Linked DNA regions of Homo sapiens. The protein of the gene in region 2 interacts with the protein of the main gene of each other region in a biochemical or structural test. Each region holds a gene or a part of one and is shown on either strand. Other genes may lie near its edges.

The links. Proteins that work in one complex are often made in the same cells at the same time.
Region 1: the proteins of GAN (region 2) and UBA1 form a complex in vitro, tested with the Homo sapiens proteins (one study listed by IntAct).

What each region holds. Positions count from the first base shown.
Region 1 is NC_000023.11:47,210,829-47,213,228, reverse strand, and holds part of UBA1 (ubiquitin-like modifier-activating enzyme 1), read right to left. Parts: intron 2,388-2,400; coding exon 2,313-2,387; intron 2,194-2,312; coding exon 2,004-2,193; intron 806-2,003; coding exon 717-805; intron 459-716; coding exon 366-458; intron 240-365; coding exon 48-239; intron 1-47. UniProt on the Homo sapiens protein: Catalyzes the first step in ubiquitin conjugation to mark cellular proteins for degradation through the ubiquitin-proteasome system.
Region 2 is NC_000016.10:81,321,462-81,324,961, reverse strand, and holds part of GAN (gigaxonin), read right to left. Parts: intron 1-3,500. UniProt on the Homo sapiens protein: Probable cytoskeletal component that directly or indirectly plays an important role in neurofilament architecture.

The sequences.
Region 1 (2,400 bases), on a different chromosome or scaffold from region 2:
ACACAGATACACCCCACCCAAACCCTGCTTCGGATGCAGGCCCCCACCTGGTGACGTGGTGCGGCAAGGGGTTCAGAGAAACCAAAGAAAGGCAGGGCCAAGTTGAGGAAACCATTCTTGTAGGAGTCAAGCTGTCGGTGCCCCTGCACAACCTTGTACAGCTCCAGACACACAAGGCCAACCACGGCTGCTGTGGTCGTGGCAATGGCTGGGATGATCTTCCCTGCAATCAGCTTGCTCTGAGAGACAGAAGGGACAAAAGAAGGTGGTAGTTAAGTACAAGAGCCTCAGGGTCTACAGAGGGGCTAAGTGTGGGTAACTCAAACCTGGAGGAGGGTGGAACATCAGATTTAGATTCCCCTCACCTTGTGCCGGTCTGCAGAAGGAATGTCATAGTTTTCTGCCCGGAGGTTGGATGCAGCCACGATGAAATCCATATGAAAGTTGCTGTCATCATCCTGTTATGAGTGGGGAGGGTGTGAAGGCAGTGGGGAGAGGATCAGATAAAGAAGATGTGTATCCTCCACTGCAATTGCCTGCTGGACTCTCCCAGATCACAAAGGGATGGCTGGGAACACCTACTCATTCAGAGCCATATGGCAGGCCCACAATCTGATCCCCACAAAGGCCCGGGGCTGGCTCCAGATACTCCTGTTTTCTCCAGCCTGTCTATGCTTTGCCCATCCTCCTTCCCTGTCCTGAGCCCCACCCCATACCTTCTCAAAGTCAATGGGGTACATCTTGAATCCAGGGAGCTTGTCTGGGCTGGGCAGAGTGGCTTTGAGCTCCTCTAGACGACTGTCATCTGCATGAAGAAAGGGACACTGTCAGCCCTTTAGATCCCAGGCTAAGGTCTGAGATGGAAATGAGAGCCCAGGGTGGGGCAAAAGGTATTCAGGTACAAAAAGGATTTGGAAAGGAGAGACATCCTGGGAGAGAAAAGGGGCAAGGAGGAGAGGTAGAGCAGAGCAGAATACAAACCTGAAAAACACAGAGAAAGAGCTGAGGCTATCAAGAATGATCTCTCTAGAGACACTAAGGAACGGAAATGAAAATGTTAGGAGAAAGTGGAGATGGAGAGATCAAGATGGGAGACGTAAAGATCTTGGGAAGAATGATGTAGAGCAAGATGGGGGGAACACAGAGGATACAGGGAGGAAAAGGGGAGTAAAAAAGATATATGGAGGGGAAGTTGGGGGGAATACACAGATGTGGACATAGAGGAAAGATATGGGGGGAGATGGAGAAGATATAAAAGGGGGAGAGTGGGGGTATATACAGAGGGCGAGGCAGGTGGGAGGAGAAAGATGGAAGAAATATATGAAGGTGATGAGAGCTATGGAAGGAAAGATTGGAAGACATACATAAAGGAACATGAAGGAGTAGACATTTCAGAAGGAAGATGGGGACCATGGAAGGGGAAATGGGAGGAGATCTATGGAGAGGAAGACGGGGGAGATATAAGGAAGGTAAATGTAGGGGGCGTTACAGAGCTACAGAAGCATCATATACAGAAGGGAGGGGTGGTGAAAAAATATGCAGATGGGGTGGGGTGGGGGTGTCAGTAAACCGCAGCCCCAAACTATGGAGGGTGAAGATGCACAGAGAAACATGCAGGTAGATGTACAGATGGGGGCGGATCTGGAAGGAGACAAGGCAGGAAAGTATCAAGGGAGAGAGACTGCTGGTAGAGATCATACCTCCTAGATGAACAGATCAAGAAGAAACAGAAGAAAGAACAAAACTAAGGGAAATACACAGAGCAAGAGTAAAACAGCAAGTTCTCCTGAGGGCCAGATAGTGGGAAGGAGGAGGAGGGAGGGAGATAATTTGCCCCAACCTACCCTCTTCATGTCAAAGGGAGGCTCAAAGGAAGGTGTGGGTAAACCTCAGGCCTGGGGTCACAGAGCAGAGCAGAACCAGGGGTAGAGGACTGGTGGGGAGGCTGGACTAGGCCGGGGACATGTGGGGTGACTCCTGGCCAACTGGCCAAACACCCTCACCAACAGAGGCATTGGCGCTCTGCAGCTCCTGGTCAGAAACATGGATCTTGACGCCAGACTTGGGGGTGAATTCGGGGACCTGCACAGACTGCAGGAATGTGGCCACAGCAGCTCGGTCCTGAGAGCCTGTCAGCCCGTAGGTCTGGGCAAACAGGTTGGCAGCAGCCATCACATAGTCCAGATGCAGGGGCTAGGAGAAGGCAGGGCAGGGAAGGGTGAGCACATCAGCCCTCGAGTGGGGAGCCGCCACCTCCTTCCCACCTATTCACCCTCCACCTGACCCCAGAAGACCCTAGAAAGGAGACTTACATTGTTGACATCAAAGGTGAGCGGGTGTGGACAGCGTTTGGGCCCAGACCAGAACGGCGCTCCTGAGCTTGTGAGCTAAGGGATGGAG
Region 2 (3,500 bases):
AGCTGCTGTGTCCGCCTCCACTGCCAAACCTGGCCCAGGGCATCCCACTTTCCATCTGAACAACTGCAGCACCTGCTGAAACGGCCGCTGGTTCCACTCTTGGCTTTTATAGAGCACACCCAGCAGCACTGCATTGGAGTGACTTTAAAACAATACACAAACAAATATTCCTCTTTTAAAATACACCACTGCCCATCCATAGCCCGTAAGATAAAGCCTAAACTCTCTATCAGACTCAACTATGCCATCAATTGCTTTTTTGTCCCTTTCTCATATCCTATCACCTCCCCAGCCAGCTCCCAATACACAACATGGCAGCAGAAGTTTCATCTTCTTTGGAAGCAGTCTAAATGCCAGCTCTAACTCAGGGATCACAGGCCTTCCCAGCCTCTAATCTGTTGTCGATGCCATCCCACCCTTTGCTCACCATCTCCAGGTATGTGGTGTTCTGTTCCCAGAGAGGCCTGACCTAGTCCTGGTGCCACCCCTGATCCTGGTGCCTCCCCCTGCTCTTCTCATGCCTAGGTCTCCTCCTCCCTCAGATCTCAGTTTCAATGGCACCACCTCGGAGCAGGGATCCCGTCACCCAGGCCACAGCAGCAGCCATGCTCATCCTCTGTGGACTTCCTTCGGCAAACTCATATGGCTCTGTAATTAGACCCCTTTACTGCTCACCTCCCCAGGTAGCCCCCATGGATGCTGGCACTCCGTCTAGAAAGGGCAATGAACAAACGGGCATATTAGAGAGGCTTAGCCAAGAACTGATGTTCTCTACTTAAAGAAAGTCATTTCTGTAAATGTGATTAATTGGGGTAACACTATAATAATAAAGGGTCAAATCAGCCAATTAAATTCTTTTAGGGCAGACTATCAGAAGTTTCTACTCTGATAAACACAGCAAATCTATTCTCTGCTCATTCTTGAGATTCTGAAACTACCCATAACACAAGGATGTTATAAAAAAACTAAGTGAAATCAAAAGTAATCTTTAAATCTTTAGTTTTATGTTTATTTCCTTCTCCAGCCCCACAGAGATAGAAAAATAAATAGACTGACATAGGTCTCCACATACTGGGTTAGTTTTGATACTCTCTGTGGGAGGCCACTGAATACAATGCTCCAATGGCAGGCAGCACAAGAGGATGGAGTCCTGGAGGGCGCAATCCTCTGTAAATGACTGAAATGGAGGCTCCAGGAGGACAGTGGCCTTGTCAGTTCGTTGCCACCATCTTGCCAGTACATAGATGCTGCTGAGATGTCTTGAGTTATCTCCTGTGTATGTATTAAACGACTAAACCTGTAATCAACTCCCTAAACAACACCCTAATTATATAGAAGGTCCCTTTACTGTGAAATATATCTGTGAAGAAACAATACACAGTATATCTCAATAACTTTAGACAATGCTAATTCTTGAACTGCAATCTATTATTGGTAAACACAACCCCACAGCATATGGGTTAAGGCAGTGATGACATTTCTTAAGGATGTCCCAAGACTTATTATGACAGTGAATATTTTCATAACCCCTTTTCTGATCACTATGAAAGAAGCCTATAAATAAAGGAAATGGTAACCTCTTTTGCTCAAGCACCCCACTCAGGGGGTGATAAAAATGAGATGTCTATTCCTTTCCTACCAACAGCAGGCATTGTAATTTTTAGGCGGGGAACAAAGTTGATAGCTTTGGTCGCACAAGACAGTAGCTGTTAAGGAGGCCAAGCAGGAGAACAAACAAACCCACCAAAAACCCCGAGAGAAGTCTCTTATCTGTTATACTAAGTGTCAAATCCCTGTACCAACTTTCATGTAAGGAAGAGAAGCTAGAAGTTGTGGGAAACTATTCCCTGGACTAACCAAATGGAAGACTATACAATTAACCAATGGGTCCTGCTGGCCTCCAGCTCCATCACTGAAGTAGACTGGGGGCTGTAGCATGGAGAGGAGAATGGCAAACACGAATATCAGGGAACTTTCTAAGGATTTTCATTGTCCTTCAAAATCCCGCTGTCCTTAAACTTCTGGCTTCATTTCTAGTGAATGTTCTCTGTGGGTTAGAAAAGACTCATATCAAACTCACAGCCTAAATGTGAGGTTTCAGTATGAAGTTTCTTACAATTCAGGGACTGATCAATATAAACAATTTAAGTGACAAAAGTGCAAATATTTTGAGCTCAGTAATACTAAACCATTTACTATTATTCAGAGGTGTAGGCAACTGGTTACTGATGAATGCTAATAGGACCATAAAACTATGTTTCAAAATATATCTAGTCATATTAATATGTTACCATAAAAATCACAAGCATCAAATGGTCTTTAAAATTGTTCTTAAAAACATAAACAACTTTGTAGTTGAGAGAACCACAAAATATCTACGAGCAAAAATATACATTTAAGTTTCTATAAAAACTCAAATCCAAATAAACCCCAAAGATATTTAATTGGTCTGTATTTCATTATTCAACAGTCAACTTTTAAAAACTAGTCCTCCTATCTTCCATTTATGATACGCATTGGCCCTCTAAGCCTTACTCTATTGAAATGGAGGCTCCAGAAGGGCAAAGGCCTTGCCAGTTGGTTGCCACCATCTTGCTAGTACCTAGCCGCTGCTGAGATGTCTTATCTCCTCTGCATGTGGTGAACACTGGAGATAACCAACAAAATATTTCACCAAGATCTTATTTACCTAAGTATTCCATTTTTCTAACTTATTTGAACAGAGGAAAAGTCCAAATCCCTTCACTATAATAGCAAATGGCAAAGTACTACGTATTTCTATTTTGCAGTATTTCTGTAATAATCTTTATGAGAAATTAGGGCATTCACATTCCCAGAGAGAAATGAATGCAGCAAACATCTGACCATCATTCTATGGCTAAGTCACTCTTTGGCCCTAAGTACTTAGGAAGATGATTTAACTCTGCTCTTCCAAGCACCAGAATCAGGAACTCTGGTAGAGTGTCGGGCCATCTAGATGGACATAGAATCTTTATCCTCCACAGAGCCAGAGCTGCCACCTTTACCTGAGCCTTTGATTTCCTTCCTTCTTTGGATTTGTTGTGGCTTAGGAGGAAGAGAACCCATGGGAAGCGCTCAAATGCAAGGTCGCAACCATAGCCTGCCACGTGTCACATCTCACACCCCCGTATCTCCACCCTTAACCCAGAATTCAAACTCACAAATCATTCATTTATATTACAGCTTTAGTACACAAAATGATAGTCTTGTGTCTTTCAGAAGGATGATGCAACCCTGTGAAGAACTTATTGCATGGCACTCACAGACCAAATGAACCCTTATTTGTCCTAATTATGTTTTCCTTACAAATTATAAATAGATTTTAAGTCCCACTTTGATATCATAAGAACTCATTAACACTTTAAACAATGGATAAGGCGGTTTTGAAAACTGGATGCTTACTCTATATCATCCAAATATAAATCCTAAGGAACCAGAGTTTCTATGTGGAAGAGCATTTTACTTCAATCCTAAATTAT